Regions from separate parts of the Homo sapiens genome. Here region 1 is linked to region 2. Evidence: fine-mapped expression QTL. A gene starts in region 2. The other region holds a variant in brackets. All regions are shown on one strand. Distances are from middle to middle.

Region 1 (15,091 bases), 110 kb after region 2:
TTGTGGTATCCTTCTTTGTAGAATTAAGAGTGGTTAATTTTTTTCTATTATAATTGGGTTTTCTTTTCTTTTTCTTTTTTTTTTTTTTTTTTGAGACGGAGTCTTGCTTTGTCACCCAGGCTGGAATAGTGCAGTGGCATGATCTCGGCTCACTGCAACCTCCGCCTCCCAGGTTCAAGCGAGTCTTCTGCCTCAGCCTCCCCAGTAGCTGGGATTACAGGTACCCGCCACTACGCCCAGCTAATTCTTGTACCTTTTAGTAGAGATGAGGTTTCACCATATTGGCCAGGTTGGTCTCGAACTCCTGACCTTGTGATCCGCCTGCCTCGGCCTCCTAAAGTGCTGGGATTACAGGCATGAGCCACCACACCCGGCCTATAATTGGGTTTTCATAGAATATTTCCCTAATCTATAATTAATTAACTACATAATGTATCGAGTACTGGTACTGTGTACCAGTTTCTGCTTTAAGTTCAGGAAATAAATAACAGTGAGTGAGACAAATACTCAGGTTTGAAGCTCCAAGGTTGAATGTTGAGCTAAGGCAATTTATTTATTTATTTATTTTTTTATTTGGTGAGATGGAGATTTACTCTTGTTGCCCAGGCTGGAGTGCAATGGCACGATCTCGGTTCAACGCAACCTTCGCCTCCCAGGTTCAAGCGATTCTCCTGCCTCAGCCTCCTGAGTAGCTGGGATTACAGGCATGCGTCACCACGCCCAGCTAATTTTGTATTTTTAGTACAGGAGGGGTTTCTCCATGTTGGTCAGGCTGGTCTCGAACTCCTCACCTCAGGTGATCCACGTGCCTCGGCCTCCCAAAGTACTGGGATTACAGGCTTGAGCCACTGCGCCTGGCATGGCAATTTCTTTTAAAGGGATCTATTCAAACTTGCTGGGGCAGGGTGCAGTGGCTCATGACTGTGGGCCGAGGTGGGAGGATTGCTTGAGCCCAGGAGTTTGAAACCAGCCTGGGCAACATAGCAAGTCCCCGTCTCTAAAGAAAAACCAACAATACTAGTAGTGGTGGTGTTGCACACCTGTCGCCCCAGCTACTTGGGAGGCTGAGGTGTGGGAGGATCACTTGAGCCTGGGAGGTCAGCGCTGTAGTCAGCTGTGATCATGCCACTGCACTCCAGCCTGGGCCACAAAGTGAGACCCATCCCCCAAAGAAAGAAAATTAAAAAGCTAGCTAATATCTTTTTATGATACTTTTATACACATGGACTAACTGAGGGCCTTCCTCACCCTACTGTGAATTATGAAGGGCATTTTGCTCCGACATTTATTTAATAGACATTTATTGAGTACCTGCTATGTGGAAAGCCTTACACCGTACGTTGACAGTTTGAAAGTTGGACTTCTAGCTCTACTGCGTAGACTTGTGGTTAGAGTTCAGTGAGCTGATGTGTAAAGAGTGTTTCGCTCAATGTCTAGAAGTCCAAAAGCACCTAGTAAATGCCAGCTGCTGTTTTACTGGCAAAGTCTCTAATTAAAGTTCTAAATAGACGGGTGTGAAGGTGAGTAACAAGGGCCATATTGAATAAGTTGCTCAGTATCTGCTTGTTTAGGACTTTGCATGTTACTGAATGTAATATGTAAAAGTTTAAAAAATAGTCTAATAACAAGACTCCAATTGTTTATCTCTACAAAGACCAAGTTTCAGAATATTAACAGAGTGTTGGGCCGTGATCCTTTCTGAATCAGGGCCCCTTGGAGAAAGCTGTGCACGAGTTCCTGGTAGGGTATTTAGCCCGTGAAGGGCAAGTAATATCAGTCTTGAATGACAGAGTTATCTGCCCAATTTGGACCCCTCAGTGGTCCAAATGGAAGAAGGTGTCAGACACAAAATGTTGCTTCCAGTTTCAGGGGCTTTGGAGCCATCCCTAATCTAGAGACTTGAACCTGGCCCGTGAGAAGTAAAGAGGGAAAGCTCCAGGGAGCTTGTGGGTCATGGGGCCGCCAAGGGCACCCGAGGATGCTCTGGCCTCTGGAAGGCAGTGGCTGCCTCTGTAGACAAGGCCGTGGCAAAGCCGTGGGGCTTCCTGTGGTGACAGGCGCTTCCGTGGCACTCAGTGGCCAGGATGCACGAGCTCTGGTTCCCTCAAGTACTACAGGAGACGCTTCCTTTTACATGTTTGTTTTGCTCCGGTCTCTCTCGGTGATGACTTTGGGTTTTGACTATAGGCGCAGAATCCGCATTTGCTGTGATGAGTTGAATCTCTTAGTGCCGTTCTGCAATGCCGAGACTGACAAGGCCACAACTCTGCAGTGGACCACAGCATTCCTGAAATACATCCAGGAAAGACATGGAGATTCTCTTAAAAAGGTTAGTGGTAGGCCAGGTAGATTTTCAGAATTTTACAAATTTTACTTAACAATGTCCCTCCTTTTTCCTAAGGATAACTCAAACTATCCTTTGTTTCCTGGAATCTAACATCAAATACTAAGTCCAGTATGAGCAAAGCTCTGCTCTTTAATGATATAACTTGTCATTTATTAAAGTAATAGTCACAGCCTACATGTGTTACACTCAGTGTGTAAATAACTGTGAAGAGGCAATTGTCAGATAGCAAATTGGGCACCTGCTGTGTACGGTATATTGCACTGGGGCTGACGGGTGTGTAGGACATGATATTTGCCCTCAGAAAAACTTGTGAAAGGGATAAAAGCAAGAATAGAAAAACAAAAACCGGCCAGCCACAGTGGTTCACGTCTGTAATCCCAGCACTTTGGGAGGCTGAAGTGGGAGGATCTCTTGAGCCCAGGAGTTTGAGACCAGCCTGGGCAACATGGCAAGACCCCATCTCTACTAAAAAATACAAAAATTAACCTGGTGTGGTGGCGTATGCCTGTAGTCCCAGCTGCTCGGGGCGGGGGCTGGGAGGGAGGATCAATTGAGCCAGGGAGGTCGAGGCTGCAGTGAGCTGAGATCATACCACTGCACTCCAGCCTGGGCAACAGGGCAAGACCCTGCCCCACCCCCACCCACCCCAAAAAAGAAAGAGAAACAAAAATGCAGATAAGTGTCAAATAGTCTGATCTGGACTTCAAATATGCCCAGCAGGTTAATAAGAAATATACTTCTGTGGACTGGGTGCATATACTTCTGTGGACTGGGTGCATATACTTCTGTGGACTGGGTGACTATACTTCTGTGGACTGGGTGACTATACTTTTGTGGACTGGGTGACTATACTGTGGACCGGGTGACTGTACTTCTGTGGACCGGGTGACTATGCTTCTGTGGACCGGTGACTGTGCTTCTGCGGACCGGGTGACTGTACTTCTGTGGACCGGGTGACTATGCTTCTGTGGACCGGGTGACTATACTTCTGCGGACTGGGTGAATGTACTTCAGCCGACCGGGTGACCATGCTTCTGCGGACTAGGTGACTATACTTCTGCGGACTGGGTGAATATACTTCTGCTGACTGGGTGAATGTACTTCTGCAGACTGGGTGACTATACTTCCATGGACTGGGTGAACATACTTTTGTGGACTGGTTGACTATACCTTTGTGGACTCGGTGAATATACTTCTGCGGACCGGGTGACCGTGCTTCTGTGGAATGGGTGAATATACTTCTGCGGACCAGGTGACTATGCTTCTGTCAACCAGGTGAATATACTTCTGTGGACCGGGTGACTGTACTTCTGTGGACCGGGTGAATATACTTCTGTGGACCGGGTGAATATACTTCTGTGGACTGGGTGACTAGGGAGGAGCCGGCGTGTTAGCGCCAGCATATGCAGTCCCTCAGGACAGCCAGCCTGCCGTGATCCTGTCTGTGTGGTCGTGGCAGTGGCCTGCAGCAAGCCATCGTGGTTGGCTGGAACTAGACGTGTGATTTGAATGCAGGAGTTCAGTCAGCCCCTCAGTGGCCTAAAAGGAAGAAGGTGTCAGTCACAGGGCTGGTTCTGGGCCCTGCCTTGGGGGGACCCCAGTTCCAGGGTTCTGGGCCCTGCCTTCAGGGGACCCGAGTTCCAGGGTCCTGGGCCCTGCCTTTGGGGGACCCGAGTTCCAGGTCCCGGCCTCAGCGTTGCAGTGGCCAGGGTCAGTGGCTCTTTGGCCCTCTAGGAGTGAGCAGACCTTAGTGAAATAGATCCACAGGGTCCTGACTTTGTACCTGGTCCAAGCTGTTGGGGAATTGCTGCTGTTGACCCAGGCAGGAGTCTGACTAGAGAACAAACTAAGGTTGCTGCAACAAACAAGGACCTCTTCCAAGAAGGGCTCCCAGGCCTGGCGCAGTGACTCATGCCTGTGATCCCAGCACTTGGGAGGCCGAGGCGGGTGGATCATTTGAGGCCAGGAGTTCGAGACCAGCTTGGCCAACATGATGAGACCCCCGTCTCTATTAAAAATACAAAAATTAGCCAGGCGTGGTGGCGCCTGTAGTCCCAGCTACTCAGGAGGTTGAAGCAGGAGAATTGTTGAACCCGGGAGGCGGAGGTTGCAATGAGCCAAGATAGCACCACTGCACTGCAGCCTGGGTGACAGAGCGAGACTCCATCTCAAAAGAAGGGCTCCTGTGTCTACGTCATGGTGGGGCTAGAGAGAGGTCCCCGCAGCTGGGCTGTGTTGAGTGAGGGCTCGTCTCTTCAGCGCCAGGCAATAGTTTGTCTTGTCTCTGTCCCTTTTCTGTGTCCACATGACATTTACATCTTGCGAGTTGCATAATTTAAGTTGTTTATTTACATTATACATTTAATTGCATTCTATAGCGATGCTATGTTGAATGTATTCTGATCGGATCGTTTATGGTTATTTACAATGCAGTTACTCTTGAAGATTATTGTTAGAGGTAGACTGTTGATTTGTTTTGATAAAATAAAGCTTTTGTGTTTTAAAAAATGCTTTAATGTTTTGGCTTTGTGTATCTATTAGTAAATCATTATTGATCTGATTTACTCAAGACGAAGGCATTTATAATTTTTGAAATTAAAAAATGTTAATTGTATGTATAGTCAAAGATTAAGTAGACCAAATGTTTATGGATATGATACTTTACATACATTATGTTTGCTGAATATTTCTTAAATGTAATTACATTGAATCTGATTACTTCTGGGTCACATTATTAGACCCACCAAGAAACAGGCTGAGGTCAAGTCAGTTCACAATTTTTTCGGGGAATTAGAACATAAAAAGCCGAAACACATGGGTTCTTAATTGTTTCTTTAGTGACTGCCCCCTTTTACTTGGATGCATATTTTTGTCCTTGAAGACGTAATACATGAGAGTTTTAAGTGATTTCTCTACATTATTTTGGTACACATTTCACTCAGCAGGTCTTTTCCAGTGTGACCAGGCACTGCTGAAGGTGCTGGGGTACCCTGCGCAAGATAGAGGCATGTCTGGCATGGAGGGAGGCAGGGGACGAGTAAACGTGAAGACAGTGGGAGCAGGGCCTTGCGGGTGGAAGGTGCTGCTGCGAGCCAGCCGGACTCGGGGGCTGCTTTGGATTGGGTGATGTTGGGTGGTCGAGGGAGGCGCCCAACCAAGGCCCAATGATGACAGGGAGCTGGCAGCCAGGACCTGCCGGCTGCAGAGTCTGAGGAGTGCCTGCCTGCCAGCCAGTGTTGCTGGGCAGGGCACCGGGGCAGGCTGGGGCCTGGTGGACCGCTAGTCCTGAGGGTTGGGGGCCTCGGCAGTCTTTGGGCAGTGAGTGACATGACCCATATCACCCTGCTGCTGGGGGACACTGGATGCTAGGGAGTAGGAGCTGGGCTGGGGTGAGAGTGGAAACCAGGAGTCTGCAGTAGCTGGAAGATGTGGCTTGCCGGGCGATGGCTGCCAGGGGGCGGCGCTGGGGAGGAGGAAAGGCACAAGGCTTCTTGTGTTTGTGGCGGTACCAGTTGGGGGTTGTGATGGGAAAAAGGCGTCAGGGTTTGGCCTCGGTGGCTGGGTGGATGGGGCTGTTTACTGAGAGGGAAGACTCAGAGAAGCAGGATCTCGGCATTCTGGGGGCGTCAGGTGGGGACATCGGGAGGCAGGGGATAGATAAGTATGGGGTGAGGGCAGGGCGGCGTCAGCCATCAGTGATTCACTTCTGTTCGTTTTCTAGTGAACATAGGAATTACAGTGAACACCTGTACACCCATGCTTCAGTCTCAGCAATGAACATTTACCGTATTTACTTTGTACACACGCACAATTTCAAAGACAATTATAGACACGAACCTTCATCTCTAAATATTTCTACATAAATCTCCAAGACAGGCCTTCCACAGAATCCCAGTGCCATGATCATGCCTCCCCAAGATAATAAGTCTTTTTCATATCCTCTAATGCACAGACTATTCAGATTTGCCCAAAATGTTCTTTTATTGCCACTATACCTGCCTAATTTTTTTATTTTAATGTTTATTTTGTTTTGTTTTATTTTTTTGAGACAGGGTCTTGCTGTCTCCCAGGCTGGAGTGCAGTAACATGATTATGGCTCACTGCAGCCTCTGCCTCCTGGGCTCAAGCAATCCTCTTGCCTCAGCCTCCTAAGTAGCTAGGACTTCAGGTGTGTGCCATCATGACCAGCTAATTTTATTTTTGTAGGGATGGGGTTTTGCCATGTTTCACAGGCTGGTCTCATACTTCTGGGCTCAAGTGATCCTCCTGCCTCAGCCTTCCAAAGTGCTGGGATTACAAGCATGAGCCACCATGCCTGACTAGTTTTTTAATTTTTGTAGCAATAGGGTCTTGCTATGTTGCCCAGGCTGGCCTCCCAAAGTGCTGGGATTACAGGCATGAACCACCACACCCAGCCAAAATGTTCTAAAAATGACTTTCATAGCTGTTTTTTTCCACAGTCCAGCACCCAGCCATGGATTATGCACTGCATTTGATGACAGTTTTCAAGCTCTTTGAGCTACAAGAATCCCCCCCACAGTTATTAACTATGGCATTGAGGCTTTGAAGAGATCAGGCCGGTTGTCTAGAGAATGCCCCACATTCTGGGTTTAGATGGCTCTATTTACTGTTGGTAATTTTAAATTTTGGTGTAATTTCAAACTTACAGAAAAATTGCAAGAACAGTACAAAGAGCTCTTTGTAGGCCTGTCCGGGTTTGCTCCATTCTCCCTGCCGGTCCCAGTTTCTCTCCAGGTATCTTTGGGATCCATTTGATAGTAAGCTGCAGACACCATGCTTCTTTATACTTAAATACTTCCGTGTTTTTTTTTTGAGACGGCGTCTCGCTCTGTTGCCCAGGCTGAAGTGTAGTGGTGTCATCTTAGCTCACTGCAACCTCTGCCTCCCAGGTTCAGGCAATTCTGCCTCAGCCTCTTGAGTAGCTAGGACTACAGGCATGGCCCACCATGCCCGGCTAATTTTTGTATTTTTAGTAGAGACCAGGTTTCACCATGTTGGCCAGGCTGGTCTCAAACTCTTGACCTCAAGTGATCCTGCCTACCTCAGCCTCCCAAAGTGCTGGGATTACCATTGAGCCACCACACCCAGCTAATTTTTGTATTTAATAGAGACAGGGTTTCACCATGTTGGCCAGGCTGATTTTGAACTCCTGACCTTGTGATCCGCCTGTCTCAGCCTCCCAAAGTGCTGGGATTACAGGCCTGAGCCACCACACCCGGCCCAGTGTTTACTTTTTTTGAGACGGAGTCTCGCTCTTGTCACCCAGTCTGGAGTGCAATGGCGTGATCCCGGCTGACTGCAACCTCCGCCTCCTGGATTCAAGCGATTCTCCTGCCTCAGCCTCCCGAGTAGCTGGGATTACAAACGCATCCCACCACGCCCGGCTAATTTTTGTATTTTTAGTAGAGACAGTGTTTCGCCATGTTGGCCAGGCTGGTCTCGATCTTACCTCAGGTGATCCTCCCGCCTCGGCCTCTGAAAGTGCTGGCATTACAGGCTTGAGCCACTGTGCCCGGCCCCCGTGTTGACTTTTTAATATCCACAACGATGAAAATCAGGACATTTAACATTGGTGCAAGACTGTTATTCACATTTTGCCTGCTGTCTCAATAGTGCCCACTACAACTTTTTCCCCAGTCGGGATGGCGTCTGGGGCGCTGGTTGTGTTTAGTTGTGAGATGCCCCTGCACGCTGGGGGCCCTGAAGGTGCCAGCCACTCCTGGGGCCTCCCTTGTGGTGTCTGTCCCTCCCTTCTTCACACCAGCAGGTGGTTGAGTCCCGCTTCGCATCTCCCTGCCATCTGCATCAGGCCCCGGTGTCGCTGTCCCTCACGTGCTGTCTGTTGTCAGGCCCTGCTGCAGACTCGGACTGGCCTGTCCCTTCTCTCCTCCTTTCCTGCGGACACGCTGTGACTTCTCCCGTGATCCTTCTGTGAGAACTCCCTGGACCTCGTGTCCTGTACTGGCAACCGCCCATTTCTCTGCTCTCCTTGGCTGCCCGGCTGCCCGGCGCTTGTCTGTACCTCCTGAGCCACTTCATCCTCTCTTGGATCCATTCCCAGCAGCCTGTGATCATGGCCTCCCATGCCGTTTGGTCACGCCACCACGCCCAGCTAATTTTTGTATTTTTAGTAGAGATGGAGTTTTGCCATATTGGCCAGGCTGGTCTCGAACTCCTGACCTCAGGTGATCCGCCCGCCTCGGCCTCCCACAGTGCTGGGATTACCAACGTGAGCCACCGCGCCTGGCCTACATACGGATTTTCATTCTGTTTTTGAACATGGCCACTGGAGGGCCTCTCGGCTGCAGAGCAAGCGTTTGTAGCTTGTTCGTGGCAGAATGAGCCGAACGCTGTGTTGTGACCTGTTTTAAAAATAAAGCATCTTGAAAAAGAAAAGCCATTCTTTTTGTCCTAATGAGTTTATGCCTCCTTACCTCTGGCCACCTGAGCTCCTTGGTCTGCTGTACCCCTCTGGCCTGGGCCGTGCTGGAGTCTTTCTGGGGCTCAGTCATTCACTTTGTTGGTTTTTTATGTGGGGTCAGTGGTAGTGCTTTTTCCATCATAATTTGCTCTTATCTTTATTATCCCAAAACCTTATTTCTATTATTTCCTTCTTGAAGTTTTATTTTTTTCTGGTATCTTGGGTTGAAAGTTTATTTTGTCTATGTTGTTTTCTAATCAATGCATTATAGTAAATTTGTCCTGGTGTGCTTTTGAAACATTTCACAGGTTAGGACACAATGCTTTCATTGTTTCTCAGTTTTAAATAGCTTGTAATTTTTTTTTTTTTTTTTTGAGATGAAGTTTCACTCGTTGCCCAGGCTGCCGTGTAATGGCGCGATCTTGGCTCACTACAGCGTCTGCCTCCTGGGTTCAAGCAATTCTCCTGCCTCAGCCTCCTGAGTAGCTGGGATTACAGGCATGTGCCACCACCCCGGCAAATTTTGTATTTTTATTAGAGATGGGGTTTCTCCATGTTGGTGAGGCTGGTCGTGAACTCCCGACCTCAGGTGATCCACCCACCTCGGCCTCCCAAAGTGCTGCGATTACAGGTGTGAGCCACTGCACCCGGCCGCTTTCTTCCTCTTAATAACTTCCTGGTATATTTTCCTGACTCATAGTTAGAGCTATTTCTTTTTTCTTACTAAGAAAATTTTTTTTATTGTTGGTATTATTATTTTTCTTTTTCTTTCTCTCTTTTTTTTTTTTTCCCAGCGAGGGGCCCTCATTCTGTCACCCAGGCTGGAGTGCGGTGCAACCACAGCTTAGTGCAGCCTCGTCCTCTTGGGCTCAGGTGCTCCTCCTGCCTCAGCCTCCCGAGTAGCTAGGACCGTAGGCGCCCCTCACCACCGCACCCGTCTTGTTGTTATTCTTCTCATGTTCACAAATC[T/C]AACATGAGTATCTGCTTTGGGACGTTGTCATCTCAATGTTTTGATGTTATAAAAATTCCTTTAAAACTCAACGATTTCACATATGTTCTGTTGCAAATAGATGCATTTGGATTGAGGTGCAGATTGAGAGTGCGATGACATCAGTACCACGTCTTTGGCCTGGGCTCAGCTGAGGAGGACTAAGGGGATCTGCTCCTCTCTTTCACAGCTGCCCCAGCTCCCAGGAGACGGGTCGTGGGCGGGCCCTGCAAGGGTCCAGATGGAACCACAACTCAACCCTGCCTCTGCCCAACTGTTCATAGTGAAGGCAGACGCCGGGACTAGCCTCATCACTGTGTGAAAATAGTTCAGAAGATCTTGCGAGCGCCTAGTTATGTCTGAGGATGATTATTTTCTTCCTTCCTTCTTTTTTTTTAAATTATCGTCTTTTAAATTTAGATGGATAATTAAGAATGCTTCCAATTTAAGGTTCTAAGCACAAACTCCAGATACGTCATGTTATGGACTTGCTTCCTGAAGATGAAATCAGCAGTTGATGGAAAGAATCCACAACACGCCTACAGAACAGCAAATCACAAATGGCTGTGTCTCCACGAAGCCAGGAGCTTTGCATTTGAAGTTTCTATCTGGGCTCATTTCCAGCTGTTCAGGGTTCGGATTCCTGAAGGCTTCCTTAGCATTTAACTCATTCTTTGTTGACTGAAGGCACTGGCACTGTTTCTCCACACGCAAACTGATCTTTGTCATAAATCACTTTTATAATGAGAGAGCAGCCTGGACACATTGCCACACCTTCCCCATTCTCCAGCTCTTCCTTGGTGATGGAGAAGTTATCTCCGCATGGGCAGGGACAGAAATATGTCTCCGAGTCCTCGTCATATTGGAAGTCCTCGATTTCCACCTCGTCATGAAATACTGCCATGGTCAGCGGGGGTTGCTGAAGGGGTGACGCCCCAGCAGTCCGAGACCAGCTCCGAGGGTCTAACTTCTCCGGAGCCGGCCCAGGCTCTGACTTTCATTTAATTGTCCTGAAAGGTGAATTCTATCTTGCCAAATAGGCAAGTGTTTTTTATATGTAGGCTTTAGGTGTCAGAATATAGGAAATTATCAAAATGTGGGGTCATTTTAAATTGCATCCTAAAACCTTTTAAAATTTGGGAAGAAGCTGGGCGTCGTAGCTCACGCCTGTAATCCCAGCACTTTGGGAAGCTGAGGTGGGCAGATTACCTGAGGTCAGGAGTTCGAGACCAGCCTGGCCAATACGGTGTGACCCCCGTCTCTACTAAAAATACAAAAATTAGCCGGGCGTGGTGGTACATGCCTGTAATCCCAGCTACTCAGGAGGCTGAGGTGGGAGAATCAGTTGAACCCAGGAGGCAAAGGTTGCAGTGAGCTGAGATCGTGCCATTGCACCCCAGTCTGGGCGACAAGAGTGAAACTCCATATCCAAAAAAAAAAAAAATTGGGAAGAAAATGAGTATATTTATATGCAGGTGTAGATTCTGAGTGCACACAGTAGTTGGAAATGGCAGCTTGCTTGGTTGGAAAGTTGCTTAAAAGTGGATGGGTGGAATGTTCCAGTCACTCCAGGTGGTTCAGAAGTTAAATCCATGGCAGCATGGCGCTTGTGTCCTCCTGGACTTGAATTAAGTAGAAAGTTACTACAACTCAGCAACAAAAAGACTACACAGACTGGGAACCGTGGCTCCCGCCTGTAATCCCAGCACTCTGGGAGGCCGAGGTGGGTGGATCACCTGAGGTCAGGAGTTTGAGACCAGCCTGGCCAACATGGTGAAACCCTGTCTCTACTAAAAAAACAAAAATTAGCCGGGTGTGGTGGCAGGTGCCTGTAATCCCAGCTATTCAGGAGGCTGAGGCAGGAAAATTGCTTGAACCCCAGGAGGCAGAGGTTGCAGGGAGGTGGAGGTTGCAGTGAGCTGAGATCACGCTGTTGCACTCCAGCCTGGGTGACAGAGTGAGACTCGGTCTCAAAAAAAAAAAAACAAAAAACAAACAAAAAAAAACAGAAAAAAAATGTTGAAAGCCAGGCGTGATGGTGTGCACCTGTAGTCCCAGCTACTCGGGAGGCTGAGCCTGCAGTGAGCCGTGGATGTGCCACTGCATTCCAGCCTGAGAGAGCAAGACCCTGTCCAAAAAAAAGACAGCACAACTGAAAAATGGGCAAAGAACTTGAATAGACATTTCTCCAGAGAAGATACACAGATGGCCAATAAGCCCATGAAAGATGCGCCAAGCCGTTAGTCATTAGGGAAATACGAATCAAGACCCAATGAGATACTACTTTTACACATACTAGGATGGCTATTCAAAAACAAAAACAAAAGCAAAATAGCAAGTGTTGGCAAGGATGTGGAGACATCAGAATCCCTGTGCTTTGCCGCTGGGGGTGTGAAATGGTGCAGCCACTGTGGAAGACAGTATGACAGCTCCTCAGAAGGTTCAACATAGAATCACCAGAGAAGCATAAACCCCAAAGAGGTGAAACAGGGACCCAAATGGATGCTTTTCTATGAATATTCATGGCAGCACCTTTCACAGTGGCCAAAAGGTGGAAATGACTCAAGTGTGCTCCAGCAGAGGAATGAGTAAACAAATGTGTTACAAGCACACAACAGAATCTTACTCAGCCATGAAAAGGAATGAAATTCTGACACAGGCTACAGCATGGATGGCCCGAGGTCATTATGCTGAGTGAAATAAGCCAGTCACAACAGGGCACACCCTGCGGGATTCCGTAAACAAGGCACCTAGAGCCGTCAGATTCAGAGAGACAGAAAGTGGACTGGTACGTGCCAGGGGCTGGGGGCCGGAGCGGTGTGGAGTTAGTGTTTAATGGGTACGGAGTTTCTGTTTAGGGTGATGAAAAGGTGGTGGCGGCTGCACAGCACTGTGAGTGGACTTCACGCTGCTCCACTGTACACTTACACATGCTTAAAAGGCAAATTTTATGCTATATTTTAATACCACAATAAAAACTGTATAAACCTGGATTTAATCGTGTAGAATGCTATGTTTTAAAACCAACTTATGGAAATTTTCAAATCTGCACAGAAATAGAAAGTGAACTCCCAGGTCCCTCTAACTCAGTTTCAGGCATCAGCTTGTTTCACCTATCCCCTCGCCCTCCCACCCCCGCTGAATTATTTTAAAACAATTCCAGACATCATTTCATTCATAAATATATCTTCCGAAAGAAAAGGCCTGTTTAAAAACACAACCGCATTATCAGTCTCCTTCCTGAAAGCCTTCACTCCTTATTACCCACCTGAGTCTCCTTCCCGAATCTGAGCAGAATCTCCCGTGAGCCCACAGGTGTCTCTACGGTCAGCTCATTTGAATCAGGATCCAAACATCACATTTGGTTGATAGTTTTTAAATATATCTTAACCCGTAATAGTTCCCCCTTCCTTTCTTCCTCACCGTTCATTTGTTGAAAAGGGAATGATTTGTCCCGTAGACGTTTCCACATTCTGCCCGTGGTGGTTGGCGCCTGTCATCGGGCCGTCGCCTGTGCCCCTCTCTTCCTCTCAGTCTCCTTCGGGAGGTTGAGACTGACCCCACCATTATAATTGAGGCCTTTTGTAAAAGACAGGTGGTGTGACAGGAGCAAGCTCAGCCCACCCCCACCCTGCTGGCAGGGTCTCCCCAAGGACAGAGCCATCTCAGCGAGCAGCACCTCCACCTTGCTGGCCTTGGAACCCTGAGTGTGTGGCAGTGCAGAGGGCAAGGCAGTCGCCCTGGGGTGGGGGTAGATGCCCCTGACTTGTTAATTGTTGAAACTTTTTAAAAATTTATTTTTTTGAGACGGAGTTTCACTCTTGTTGCCCAGACTGGAGTGCAATGGCATGATCTCGGCTCACTGCAACCTCCACCTCCCAGGCTCAAGAGATTGTCCTGCCTCAGCCTCCCAAGTAGCTGGGGTCACAAGATGCTTGCCACCACGCCCAGCTAATTTTTGTATTTTTAGTAGAGATGGGGTTTCACCATGTTAATCAGGCTGGTCCTGAACTCCTGACGTCAGGTGATCCACCCACCTCGGCCTCCCAAAGTGCTGGGATTATAGGCGTGAGCCGCCACGCCCGGCCTGAAACGTTTTAATATATACACTCTACCTTCTCTCACACGCTGGGTTTACAGGTTTATTAGCTAGGGCCCATTAGCGGTTGAAACGTTCATGTCATGTATATTTTACCACAATAAAATCAATACAGTGTGGCCAGACATTCTGAGTATTGGAAAAACAAAAGTACATGTACAGTGTAACTGCTATTTGAAAAAAAAAAAGTTAAAATCTGTTTATTATATAAATCCCCTTGTGAGGTAAGACACAAGTTTGTGAATGACACCTTAAAACAGCGTATTCTAAAGTCATTTACTTAGCTCTTAATTTGAACCTTTTGCACTTTGGAAGACAGCAGTTTTCATGTCAGTTAATTCAGTATGTTAACCGTCACTTCTTCACTGCAGGAATTTGAGAGCGTATTTTGCGGTAAAACTGGCCGAAGGCTAAAGCTGACCAGACCGGACTCCTTGGTGACCTGTCCTGCACAGGGGAGTTTACAGAGCAGCCCCTCGATGGAGATCAAGTGATCGGACTGAACAGGAATCCTCGGGGGGTGAACAGCCATTCCTTCGTGACCTGTGCACGCCTTCTGCAACCCTGGAGCTCTGCTCGGCTAGTCTGACTCGAAAAGGGCGTGACTCAAGCTGACGGGACTCCAGTAGGGACTTTGAGAGCACATTTTGTAAAAATATTTATCTAGACGCAAATGCTTATCCATGAATGTCCTCTTAGACCATTTGGGGATGAAGCCATCTTAATAATTAGTAATAATTAATTAGTAATAATTAGTAAGCATTTTCTCAATGCTCTGATTCCATCATGTTTTCTTAACATGATAACTTAAAAAATTGACATCCTTTGTACTTTCTTTAATCTTAAAAAGTACACGGCTTTTTACTTATTTACCTTTTAAATATGCCCCTTTAGCAATTGGAACAAGTTAAATTGTTAACTAAAAACAGTTTGGAAATTTTATTTCATTCGTTATATCACACCCCCTTGTCATGACTCTGAGTCACGTGCTGCTGTATTGCAACGTGCAGGACCATTTTAAACCTGTGTGCTAAAAATTTTCCAGATACTTGCTTTAAAGCTACTTTTGTCCACAAATGAAATACTGTCACAGTAGACGCTTAAATGCCACGTTTTCATACCAAGAGTCATTCATTACTTCATGTGTCACAAACTGTGGTGTTTGGAATTGGGTTTTTCAATGAGTGGCTTTACTTATCAATCACAACAGGTAAT
Region 2 (13,084 bases):
GGGCGCAGGGAGGGAGGACTGAGGGGCACGGGGTTGCCGCATCGTGGATGAGGACAAGCCGCCCTCCAGCCAGCTGATAGGCCCACCCTGAGGACAAGCCGCCCTCCAGCCAGCTGATAGGCCCACCCTGAGGACAAGCCGCCCTCCAGCCAGCTGATAGGCCCACCCTGAGGACAAGCCGCCCTCCAGCCAGCTGATAGGCCCACCCTGAGGACAAGCCGCCCTCCAGCCAGCTGATAGGCCCACCCTGAGGACAAGCCGCCCTCCAGCCAGCTGATAGGCCCACCCTGAGGACAAGCCGCCCTCCAGCCAGCTGATAGGCCCACCCTGAGGACAAGCCGCCCTCCAGCCAGCTGATAGGCCCACCGTGAGGACAAGCCGCCCTCCAGCCAGCTGATAGGCCCACCCTGAGGACAAGCCGCCCTCCAGCCAGCTGATAGGCCCACCCTGGCCCAGACGCTCCTGCGCTCACAGACTCTCCTGTCGAGGGTGGGGGCCAGCGGATGGTGGGGACGGCATCTGGCATCGTTAGCACAGATGAAAGAAAATGAGATGATGTGGCCACTCCTCCAACCCATGTCCCCAAGTCCCAGCCTCATCACCTGCCAGCCACTCCAGAAAGGCAGAAATATGCACAAAGCAAGCGCGGTGCCCGGGGCTGGTACCTGCAGAGCACAGCCTCGGGCTACAGAGCCCAAAAGGCGCCTGCGGGACCCACCTCACCATGGTGGCCCTGCAAGCCCATGTGGCCCATCCCCCACGCAGACCAGGGGCCACTCGGCAAGGGGCTCACCTGGTGGCCTCTCCTGGGCCCCGTCTTAGGCCAGGACTTACCCAAACTGGGAGCCGGCGCCCACGATGCTGTAGGTGAAGGCTCGCTCACTCTCCCGCACCTTCTGCGACAGCAGGCTGGTCAGGGCAGGGAAGTAAACCCCTGCAACAAGTGGAGGGAGGGTCTCTCAGGGTCCATCCAGGGAGGCTCCTCCCGGCCTATCTGCTCAGGTTTGGGCTGTGATTCCAGAGGACGTCCACCTGTCCCTCTAGCTCACCTCCCCACCCGAGGGACCAGCAGGGCAGGGCTTTTGGTGCCACTGAGGAAACAGACTCCTTTTGGGTGAGGCTCGCTCAGGGTCGTGCCACCCGCACGGCTGAGGGAAACACCCCTGCTTCCAAGCTAGCCCTCCCACCCCGCGAACACGCACATGCACATGTGCACACTCTCACCACCGGCCTCCAGCTGTGCTCTAGAGTCCTCGCACCAACACACACACATGCGCCTGCACACGCACGTGTTCACCGGCACACTTCTTGGCAGTGCTGCATTGTGCTCACACTGATGCAGATACACGCATACGCATGAAGATGCACACCTGCGTGCACAGACACCTGCCGCATGCGTGCACAGACACATACTTCCCCCAAGAAAGCTGCCCTTCCCTGTTTTATAAACTGAGCTTCCTCCCAGGATTTCTTTTGGACCAAGTGTTCTCAGCCGCTTTAGAAGTTTGGAAACCACCTTACCACCCCATGCAGCTCCTCCACATCCAGAGGGCTCTGAGCCTGACCTGGAGGGACTCTGCGAGGGGAGGCACCGCGGAGCCACGGTGACAACAGGAGCTTGTCCCCCAAACCCACGGGCCGTGTCTACAGGGCGCTGATGCTACCCTGCAGGGGGGCATCGTCAAACAGACGGCCACACACAGGAAGCGCCTGCCTGGCCAGCGCCTGTAACTTTTAACCGCAGAGCGCTCACTCATAGGCTCACGGCTCAGAGGCAGGGCCCGTTCCCTCGCTCCCTCGAGGGAGGCTGGGGGCCGCCTGGCGGAGCTCCTGGGGCTCCCTCCAGAAGTCCGATGCCCCGCAGCAAGAGCCACAGGTCTTGGGACACCTGGCGTCTCTGCTCTGCCCGAAGACAGCGTGCACAAACACGGCAAAGCCAGCCGCAGGTGGTGCCCACCGTTACCACGCAGCCGCCATTGCTGCCCCCCAGACCCCCAGAGTAGGCTCATGGGCACAGGATGACATCTGACATTGAGACGTGCCAGACTTTGAAGGTTTCTAGAAAACAGAATGTGCCTCAGGTGCCAAGTCATCGTAGCACAACAAGCTGGGCCCCGCAGAGGAAGCGCAGCTGGAGCGGCAGCGAGCCTACGGGGTCTGGCTGCCTGCTGGGTCCCCAGAGCTGCCCACGAGGACAGCCGCCTGCCCCAGGGCCGAGGGTCTTCTCAGCGACACTTAGAGGCATTGGTCAGCCCAGTCCGAGGCAGCACCACTGTTTTCCTCACAGCTTCAGCCTTGGGACCCTCCTCCCTCACCCCGAAGACCCTCCAGTAAACAAAGATGAGGGCCCCCACCCCCCGCCAGGCCTGTCCTCCCCTCCAGGTGGTTGCCGATTCGTTCATTCCTCCCCTCCTCCTCCAGCTCCTGCAGTGGGACCTGGGCAGTGCCTGGGGAGGCGGTGATGCTGGAGGGGCTGGCTCTGGGATGGGGCCTCACAGTAAACACACAATCCTAAGTCCTCAGTTGCACTCGCTGCACCCTCTTCTGAGGGTGGGCCATGCACTGGGCCCTTGTTCTCATGTGACACCCCGTGACCATGAGAGTGGCCTCTCTCCTGGGCAGACCCCCTTCCTCTGTTATGGAGACAGTCCCAGGCAGCACCTTCCAGGCCATAACCTTGGGGAGTGAGGGTGTGGAGAGGGAGGAGAACGAGGCCTGGGAGTGAACTCCCCAAAGTCTCTGGACTTGGAGGAGAGGGAGGGCAGAGGTTCTAGGGGAGCCATGGCCAGCGCTCTGAACCTGATGCCGGCTCAGGAAGGTAGGGGGAGTCCTGAGTGGGGGGTCTGGATGGCCCAGGACACTGGGGGAGGAGTGGCCCAGGCAGGGAACTGCTGATGGGTGGGGTGGCCAGGCAGGCTGGGTTGGGGCCAGCAGGCCCCTGCAGGCTGGAGGCCTGGCTGTTTCTCCAGGGGACCCCAGCCAAGTAGGGGCCCCTCAAAGCCCCCTTGGCCCCCCCACCCACCTTGTTCTCCTGACAGTTAAGGCGCTCCAAGGCCCTAGTATCGGAGGCATCATCAGCATACGTGTGACCAAAATGCACAAAACCCAGAGTCCCACAGCAGGTCCCTTGCAGCTGGAATCCACCACTGAACTAAGGCGTTTGGTGACAAAATTCAGGGGCAGGGGCAAGTTCACTACACAGGTGCCCCCTGTGATCCTGTGTATCACTGCAGAGTGTGCACCTACAGAAGGCACACACATGGCCACACGTACACCCTCATACGGGCACACTCACGCACGTACACACGCATATGGGCACGCATACGCACATACACATGGATACAGGAACGCACACACACATACACATGCATACAGGCATGCACACGCATGCATACCACCTGCACGCACAAGTGCATGCTCACACATGTGCATGCACACATACGTACGCACACGCACAAGCACAAACATACATGCACATTGCTTGCATACACGTGTCTGCAGGGACATATGCACTTGCACACGCACACACACACAGGTGCACGCATGCACGCGGGCATGCCCATACACACACTTGCACACGCACACGCACAGGTGCACGCATGCACGCGGGCATGCCCATACACACACACTTGCACACGCACACACACACAGGTGCACGCATGCACGCGGGCATGCCATACACACACTTACACACGCACACACACACAGGTGCACGCATGCACGCGGGCATGCCCATACACACACACTTGTACACCACCTGCATGCACGCATGCACCTGCACACACATCCGTGCACACCCCCCTTGTCTCCCCACCTGGTGCCAGAGAGCGTGAGGGAGCCGCCTGAGCTCCCCTTACCTTGGAGCAAGCCCATGAGGATGCGTGAGAAGGTCATGAAGGCCAGGTGGGCACTGCTCAGGTGGGCGAGCAGTGGGGTGACGGCCGTGATGGAGCCCCAGGCAGAGGCTGACAGCAGGATGACCTTCTCACCCCCAATCCTGGAGGGAAGACAGAGGGAGGTGAGGATGTGGCTGTGCAGGACCAAGGGGCACCACCCTGACTCAGGGCAGCCCTTGAGTGGGTGCTCAGAGCTGGGCCTGGCCTGTCTGCCTCTACAGGGCCTGCTCATGACCCCAGAGCTGCCTCGTGAGGAGACCAGGTACTCCAGGGGAGCGGCCTGCCTCCTCTGCCTGCAGGGCCCTGGGGCCTTGCCAAGCCTGGCCTCTCCCCTCCCAGCTCCCATCTTCCTCTGGGGGGGTCTTCTGCCCAGATTTATCCACCAAGCTCCTTCCCCAGGAGTCGCATCCTCTGTGTCCACGAAGCTCCTTCCCCAGGAGTCGCATCCTCTGTGTCCACCAAGCTCCTTCCCCAGGAGTCGCATCCTCTGCGTGCAGCAGCACAGCCAGCCCACTCGCCCCTGGAGGCCCCAGTGGGGCGGCCCCCACCAGCCAGGAGATGGGGAAGATGGGCAGTTACCGATCCCCGAGGTGGCCGCCCACAACCTGTGTCAGGCAGTAGCCCCAGAAGAAGCTGCTGAGCACGATGCCGGCCTCCTTCTTGTTCCAGCCGAAGTCCTGGCTCATGGAGACGGTGCAGATGGGCATGCTGGAGCGGGCGCAGTACAGAAGGCATGTGCCCAGCAGCAGCGTCCCCGTCCATGCCTGGCACTCGGGCCTGTGGGACAGGAGATGGTCAGGCCCTGGGGAGGCCCCACGGCCCTGCTGCTTCGAGTTCATCACTCAGAGACCTCCCTCAGGGCTGGGGGACATGGACTGTGAATGGGGACAGCTTTGATGGAGGGCAACTTGGCAAGCATTCAAACACCTAATCGCACCTATCTGCTGACCCCTGGGAGAACACAGGCAGCCAGAAATGAGGCACAGTGGCTCCTGGGAGCAACTGAGTGGCCAGCACTCGGGCAGGTCACAGCAACGACTCATCCCCACAAAAGGTGCCTGGGCCGGGCCCTGCTTGTTCCCCTCAAAGAGAACAGGGGAGAGGGTGACCAGGAGATGGGTGGCAGAGGAGTCGGACACTGGAGAGTCTCACCCCACCCTTCCCAAAAGGTCCTGTCTGCCCCTGCGGGGAGCTGGCTGCACCCCGGGTGTGTGCTCCCAAGAACCTGCCCCAGATGAGTGAGTGGATGACGGTGTGCTGTGGACAGAGGGGCAGGTATACGGCCTTCTCGGCACTCTCTGCAAGTCTGCGCCTAGACGCTTCCCACGGGAGAAAAGACCACCAAGTCGGGCACTGACCATGCCCGAGGTCACAGAGCCAGGCCGGCCAGCTCACACTCCCAATCCTGGTGAGGGAGGCCGGGCGAGATCTCAGAGGCAAGAACAGGTCACTCCAGCAGCCCAGAGCTGCGTCCTCTGACACCTCCTGCTCTGCCAGAGGCTATCCTGGCTCCAGCCCCTCCCCACGGCAGGGCCAACCATTAACCCCTGGAGTTTGGAGAAAGTTGTGTGGGAGGAAGTGCTGTCTGTCCTGGAACTTGGCAGTGAGTGTGGTTTCGCCAGCGTCATTTGCAGCCAGGTTCCACTCTGGGGACAACTGGCTTGCCCCATATCTGGCTGCTCCCTGGGTTACCACAGAAGGACACAGTCCTCACTGCCAGGCTGCCTAACCCAGTACAGCCCTGGCCTCCACGCCCTGTCCTGGCGTGGTTGATACCCGCAGCCCTGTTGTTTACCTAGCCCCAGGCTCTCTGTAAACAGTTTTCATTGACTTAACACACGAGGCTTGCAGAAGGGACATGGGGGCCCCCACCCTTAACTTTCCACTAAAAGCCACACAGTCCAAAGGTGCCTTTAAAAAGGAGCTTTAGAGCCAGGTACGGTGGCTTATGCCTGTAATCCTAGCACTTTAGGAGGCCGAGGTGGGCAGATCACTTGAGCCCAAGAGTTCAAGAGCAGCCTGGGAAACATGGGGACATCCTCAGCTCTACAAAAAAAAACAAAACAAAACAAAAAAAAACTTTAAAAATTAGCCAGGGCCGGGCATGGTGGCTCACGCCTGTAATCCCAGCACTTGGGGAGGCTGAGGCGGGAGGATCACAAGGTCAGGAGTTCGAGACCAGCCTCGCCCACATGGTGAAACCCCATCTCTACTAAAAATGTAAAAATTAGCCAGGCGTAGTGGCGGGTGCCTGTAATCCCAGCTACTTGGGAGGCTGAGGCAGGAGAATCGCTTGAACCTGGGAGGCAGAGGTTGCAGTGAACCGAGATCAAACTACTGAACTCCAGCCTGGGCGACAGAGTGAGACTCCACCTAGCGAGACTCCATCTCAAAAAAAAAAAGAAAAAAAAACAACAATTAGCTGAGTGTGGTGGTGTGCACCTGTGGTCCCAGCTGGGAGGCTGAAGTAGGAGGATCGCTTGAGCCCAGGAGGTCGAGGTTGCAGTGAGCCGAGATTGCACCACTGCACTCTAGCCTGGGCAACAGAGAGAGACTCTGTCTTGAAAAAGAAAGGGGGGGAGGTGGGGGACCTGTGTCCAGGTGGCACCTGCCCCGCACTGCCTGGCCGCTAGCTAGAAACAGCAGAAAGCTCAGTTGCACTGATCCTCACCCCCATTGAGGCCAGCACAGGACTGAGAACACAGAGCCACTCCAGGGCCTCCTTGGAAGGAGGAAGTCAAGAACAGCCCTTCCAGGCAAGCAATCTGCCCTACGTGGCAGGCGGCAGCCACAGCCCCTTCTCTGAGCTGGGCAGGTGGTGCTGGCCAGGTGGGCACAGGGGCACCCTCCACAGCTGCCGGGGAGACAAGGATGTCAGGCTGGAGAGGATGGCCCAGACAGTCGGCTACCTGAGGCCTGACTAGGACCCCAGGCTGGGAATCCTCCATCCTGCTGGGGGCGCGGGGGACGGGGGGTGTGCCAAGAACCGGAAAGCTTTGGGCAGCTTGAACAGCTTCCTCCCACCACTCTGCACTCCCTGAGCCCAGCAGCCTGCTTCCTGTGAACTTTCTAGAGCAAACGGCCCCTGTGCAGAAGCAGCATCCACGGCTGAGCAAACAGGTGGTCACATGGCCCCTCCATTCAGAAAAGGGAACTGTGCGGGGCCGGGCCAGGCGAGCAGCAAACCGGAGAGTGTGGGTGCCGCCCTCCAGCTCTGTTCTCGCCTGGCCCAGCCTTTGTGATGTGGCTGCAGGAGGGCGGGCTAGGAAAAGGCGTGCGTGTGGCAGCCTTGACCCACAGGCCCCTCCAGAATCCTTGGCGCTACCCAATAAGGGCCTGCAAAGGAAGTTGAAGAGCTGTGGCAAGGGCTCCTTTTTAAACATCGAGCCTGGGAGGGACGTAGTGAAGGCTGCGGCAAGGGCTCCTTTTTAAACATCGAGCCTGGGAGGGACGTAGTGAAGGCTGCGGCAAGGGCTCCTTTTTAAACATCGAGCCTGGGAGGGACGTAGTGAAGGCGGAGCCACTCAAACCAGCCGCCAGTGAGGAGGCCCTGAATCCCTGGGGAGCTGGCCCTGCCCGGCAGGCCTGGATGAACGTGGGTGGGGGAAGAGGAAGAGAGCAAGGGGCAGGGCCCGCTGAGGGCAGCCCTCCCCTCTAATTGGCGCCTGACAGGGCTGTGATCTGGGCTGCCAGCTTTTCCCATGCAGCCAGCGCTCCCTTCATCTGGGTGCCAACATCCGATGGTGGCACTGCCCCTTTGGGCCTTCCTACAACTCTTCCCAGCACTTCTAGGGTCCTCAGCCCTCATACAGCTGGGAACTGGTGGGGCCAGAAGGTGCCATTACCTTGCCATGGTCAGGGTAGGTACCCTGGGGACTCAGTGCAGGCAGGAGACTGCTCTGGAACCCACAGGGCCTGAGTCTAGGCCCAGGGTCCAGCCACTTAAGGCCTCAGCCCAAGACCCAGAGCCAAGGGGTTCAGCAGTGTGGGGGCTGCTCTCAGGAGCTCCCTGGCAGAGGCCCTCCCCAGCTGACCAATGGCCCGCGGTCACCATCTCGCCCGGTTTCTGAGGCGTCACCTGCCCAGGGAGCCTCCTACAGGCAGCAGTGCTGGTGGCCAGGCGACCTGCCCAGGCCCTGCTTCTCCCCACCACCAAATGCTCCGAGAGCTGAAGCCAGCGGGGAGCTCGTCCTCAGCACACAGCTGGCACGTGGTGGCAGGACCCCCCCCAACCCCGTCCAGCTGCAGGCTCCAGCCCGTGCCCCCTACCTGGCCTCCTGACTGTCCTGGCGCCTGCTTGTCAGGGTCATGCATACACAGGGTGGTTCCACCTGGCGAGGGGTATGCCTCCTGACTGTCCAGGACAATGCCCCTGGCCTGGGGAACATAGCCCTGCCTGGAAGAGCCCCAGGAACACTGGCTGGGATAGGGCACTTGCCAGGTCCGGTCCTGGAATCTCATGGCAGGGAGGAAGGACAGGGCACTCACTTCCTTCCACCTCCCACAAGGAACACAGGGGGCCCCACAGCCAGAGGAGCCCGCCCAGCTCAGCCCTCCCCACCTAGCATCGTCCCACGTGGCAGTATCTCAGCTCCCTCCCCACGGCCCCATCTCCACCGCTCCCACCCCCCCTCCCCTCACCCCCGCCACACCTGGACCACTGGGTGTCCCCGGCCATGTCCCTGCGGGCCTCGTCTGGGGGTGGCTGCATCGGGCTTGGGGTGCTCAGACGGCGTGGGCACAGCTGTGTCCCGGGGCTGCCTCCCAGCCCAGGCTGACCCACCCGGGCAGCACCGCCCAAGTCCACGTGTCAGTCCCAGCGCGCTTCCGTCTGGTTCTCTCAGGACTTGTCGCCCCCAGACGGCCACCAGGGCGGGCAGGCGGGGCAGGGCGGGGCATACCACTCGGGTGCCCGCCCCACCCTGCTGACGTCGGTCCCTGCTGCCCCATAGGAGCGGGGCCAACGGTCGCCCTGGCTGGGTCGCCCTGACTGTCCGACGCGCCCTGGCTCAGCCCCAGCAGAGGTTAGTGTGGGGGCAGAGGGGGATTCCCAGCAGCAGGCCGGTCAGACTGGGGCTTCAGAGAAGGGCCCTGGTGGTAAGCCTGGTCCAAGAGGTGCCAGCCCATCCCTTGGACACGACACGGAGCCATGGGGCCGTCTGTCCTCTGTCTATAAAATGGGGAATGATGGCAGTCCCTGCCTTACCGATCAAATAAAATCAGGGATAAAGTCTTAACCAAGTGCAAAGAGAGTAAAAGTACAGGGTCACTGATTTTTAAAATGGATCTTTCGGGGCAGGGATGGGTCCACTCCTGAGCCCTTGGACCAAGCCTGGGAGAGCTGGACAAATCCAGCGCTGGCCCATGTCTTCTCAGCAGATGCCTGTGAAGGTTGTCATTGGCCCCTGGGTTCCTGGACAAAAGGTGTCCTGAGGACCCATCACAGGCCAGGTTCTGGGCTCGGGGGCAGGGGTGACGGGGTGGGGCCCCCACTCTGTGTGCTCCTGCTGCCATGCCAAGGATGAAGCCAGCAGGGGAAGGCCTCAACCATGCAGCCTTTCCCCAGGAGGCGGCAGGGCCTGCTCCTCAGGCGTTGCCCCCACCTCCACTAGGGCCCACCTCAGTCCATCCTCCACGCAGCAGCCACCACCCAGGGGCCGAGGGAGACACGTCTAAGGCAGGGCCTTGCACTTAGAACAGACCCACATTTACCCCCTCCCTCCCCCTAGCCCTCAGGTCTCCAACAGCCCAACCCACTGCACTGCAGGGCCTGCTCCCAGGGCCCTCTGAACAGAAAGACACGGGCACCCTGAAAAGCAAGGTCATACTTTCATCCATCCTGACGTAGGGTAGGTGAAAAGATGGTGGCAGAGAGAGGTTTATTGCCCCAAACAGCCCTAGCCCATAGCCAGGAAGTTTGGAAACTGTTGCTAAACGTATCGCTGTCAACAGCACCCTCTTTGAGGTGATTCGCTTCCATTCACTCTGTGATGGTGATTTCCTACCGAGATCTGTGATCATGCTGCAGCAGACATTTGCCATCTGGTTACCCAAAGTCCCCTTCCTCCTGGAGCTGATGTTCTGGGGCAGGTAGACAAAAATCAAAGTAGTGAAAGGGGTAGGGAAGGGGTGTTACTTCAAATAGGTTGGGCTGAGGAGGCACCCCTGGACACCTGAGTGAAGGCTGGATGAGCTGAAGAAACGGGCCATGCAGGGATGGCTGGGTGGGTGAAGGGGCCATCTCACAGGGACATTATAAAGCTGGGTGCTGGTAGTGGCCAGATGGAGGCTCTCCACGCTTCTGGTGGATTCTGAGAGCTGCCCCGCACCCAAGCATCTTTGAGGCCTAAGGTGAAAAATTATGTAGGGACAATAGACAGTCAACACCTGGGTTTTCAAGGACACAGGGTGACCTTGCGGACAGGGCAGTCACAGCCAGCACCCACTGGCCTCTGCTTCTGGAAGGCTGCGTGCCTCCCTCTTGTTGGGCCTGGCCCACCTAACTTCTTGTTTATTTCAAGTGCTGCTATAGGGAGACGATGCTAGAGATTTTCCTAAAGCAAATCCACACCTCACTACGTATGGCGCCCGTTGCTCAGCCTCTGCATCCACACCCCCCACAGACGCCCCAGGAGACCCCGCACAGCTTCTTGTAAACCAAGACAAGCCAGCCCTGGGCCTGGGGCTCCTCCCTGCACCCCACTTAGCCCTGCAACCTTCCAGCCCAACTACAATTCTCAAGATGAGGAGTCCATGAAAAGGAGACTGACAGATGACACTTTCCTCTGCCATGACTGACAGGCAGCAGCAAGAGGGAAGACCGCGGTACTGGACATCACGTGCGGGAACTGCCTCAAAGGTGGGGGCACCTTTCGGGCTGAGCTAACCCAGTCAACAGCAGACTGGAAAAAGACAAAGAACTGTGTGAGATGGTGCTCAAAACCAGAAAGATGAACTCTGCAATGACGACAAATGGATTCGGTGTGATGTGGGCGTGATACAGAGAAACATTCTTGAAGGTTCTGGAGCAGTTCATTTTTCTCAGAGCTGGTAAACTCATTGTTCGAATCTTACAAGCACTAGTGTTCAACATTTCTAAAACTGGGAGGGCCCAGTGAGGACTGGATGGGCACACAAATCTATAAACGAGCACAGACGAACCCTGGGCTGCTGTGACCGCCAGCACCTCTTCCCGTTCTTCCATGACCCTCCATGGCAGAGAATTCTTGGTGACGGGTCAGCCTGCTTCACTTTCAAAGCCAGCTGGGAAAATTACCAAAGCTGTCAGTCACACACCGTGATCCACAAGAGGGAGAAAACCTTGTTTGTGTGAGGAACGCCTACAGATGTGTCTCCAGGAAGCAGAAGTCACAGCCAGGCGGAGACCTTGCCTGACACGGGCAGCTCAAGGCAACAGCAGCTCCACCGCTTCTCCCTGGTTCCCAAGCTCATCAATTCCACCTCAAATACACAGAGACCCAAGGACAGGAGGCGCTGCTGCACCCAGCACTCTTCATCTCCGAAGTGAGCCTGCGGGGTGACCAACTGCCTTGCATGGACGGACAGCTGGCGGAAGAGCCTGCAACGTGACCTGCATTTACAAACATGAGGAAACCCACTCACCTTCAGTTGTTACTCCTTTCATGAATTCTTTTGGTTATAGCTGTGCCTATGGCTTTACGGGCTTCACCTGATAAATGGTCTTCTGTACTATGGACAATTTGGACCCGTAAACCTGGCCTTGAACTAGGTGACACTGAAATGTTACAGACAAATCAGAACGTCACATTCCCTTTAAATATTCCCCGCACACATGCACCAGGCTGACTGGTGGATACTGGGGTGTGAAATGAGAGAAACAGCCCCCACTGTGCAGATGTGGGGACATGATTATTATCAATTAACCACAGGCTGCACCTCAGCTCCTGCACACCAGGTGCCTTGTGCCGGTGGCTCTGTAGCATGGGCCTGTTTATCTTCAAAGCCATTTTGTGGCTTCTGGAAAAGGCAAACAAGCTCAGGACATTGTATCTCCAAAGAGCACATCTCTTAAAAGATTCTTGCCATAGCTAGTTACACCAAAGGCCCATTCAAACCCCATGTTCTACTTTAACAGAAGTGAAAAACCACAAGCAAAGATGGCATTCCAAAATAAGGCAGAATATCTAAGACAGGAAGGCCATGTGTGCAAGGATGGTGTGAGCCTCCAGACTGTAGTGTGGGAGCTCACACTGAAGCATTCCTGGTGATGCCCACCTCCACTAAGAACTACCGTGCTGCCTTCTGACCCGTGAGGCTAATGGACTGGCACAGGTGTGTGAACATCAAGAACACTGTGACATGCCACTGCCACATAGGGAGGAGCAGCAGGTGAGGAGAGGCCTTCCCTGTTCTCTGATACCCAACAAACATGCAAGCTCTCAACGCCTCGCTCCATGATGCCCGCTGCTCAGCTTCTCTGCATGGGCAGTTTCTGAATTTCACCTCAGGCCCTTGAAGGGGTCAGTCTGAGTCCTTTCCAAGAACCCTACAACTGCCTTCCACTCATGAAGACGCTCATGGCCCTGAAAGCATGGTAGCCACCCAGAATCAGACACCTGTAGTTATCTCCTGCCTGGGGCTCTGGCAGGTGGTGGTGGGTGTCAGGCTGACTGGTGGATACTGGGATGTGCTGGCGTATTCCCTCTGTTTTTAATATGTTTGGAAAATTTCATTAAGCAAAAAAAAAAAAAAAAAAAGAGTAATTACTTAGGCTATTAAAATCAGTTTAAAATCATGCAGTGGGTAGCTCAAAAGTTCTACTTCCTTCACACCAAGGAAATTAGTTTATGAAACATTAAGTGCCCCAGTCAAGAGAGCAGCCGATAGGTTTCAAATTAAACACACCAAGTACAGATTTACAAACTAAAAGGGGCAGCACTGTCAGAGTGAGAGGAGAGCCAACTACAGTTCCAAGAGGCGAGCTTTCTTCTGTCCTTCCATTCCAAGATATCAACTTTCAATACAAATGCATCAGTATTTGTTATTAAAATACCCTTAGGAAAAAAGAGAGCTTCCAGATAACAGTTCTGAGAAAAATGTGAAAACTTTTACTGTTACATTAAGAACAGGTGGTAGAAGCAACCTATTCCGCACTTCTCAAAAGATACAGAGGGGCACATATGCCACACTGGAATAAAGAATACAGA

The links.
Region 1: its variant is fine-mapped to the expression of SLC17A9 in whole blood (TOPMed, PIP 0.99).

Annotation. Positions count from the first base shown.
Region 1 is chr20:62,841,254-62,856,344 of GRCh38, reverse strand. It overlaps TCFL5 (transcription factor like 5), which reads left to right. Exons shown (of 6, transcript NM_006602.4): 5 at 2,188-2,329; 6 at 14,248-15,091. The coding sequence ends at 14,370. It also overlaps the pseudogene DPH3P1. Among named protein-coding and RNA genes, the nearest start is that of TCFL5, 13 kb to the left of the region's middle. RefSeq lists an enhancer at 8,514-8,808. The variant T/C (reference allele first, on the strand shown) is at 9,759.
Region 2 is chr20:62,948,354-62,961,437 of GRCh38, reverse strand. It overlaps SLC17A9 (solute carrier family 17 member 9), which reads right to left and starts at 8,729. Exons shown (of 13, transcript NM_022082.4): 1 at 8,549-8,729; 2 at 4,476-4,673; 3 at 3,858-3,997; 4 at 835-934. The coding sequence starts at 8,607. GID8 (GID complex subunit 8 homolog) reads right to left here. Exons shown (of 5, transcript NM_017896.3): 5 at 12,963-13,084. RefSeq lists silencers at 8,509-8,608, 8,619-8,938 and an enhancer at 8,490-9,319.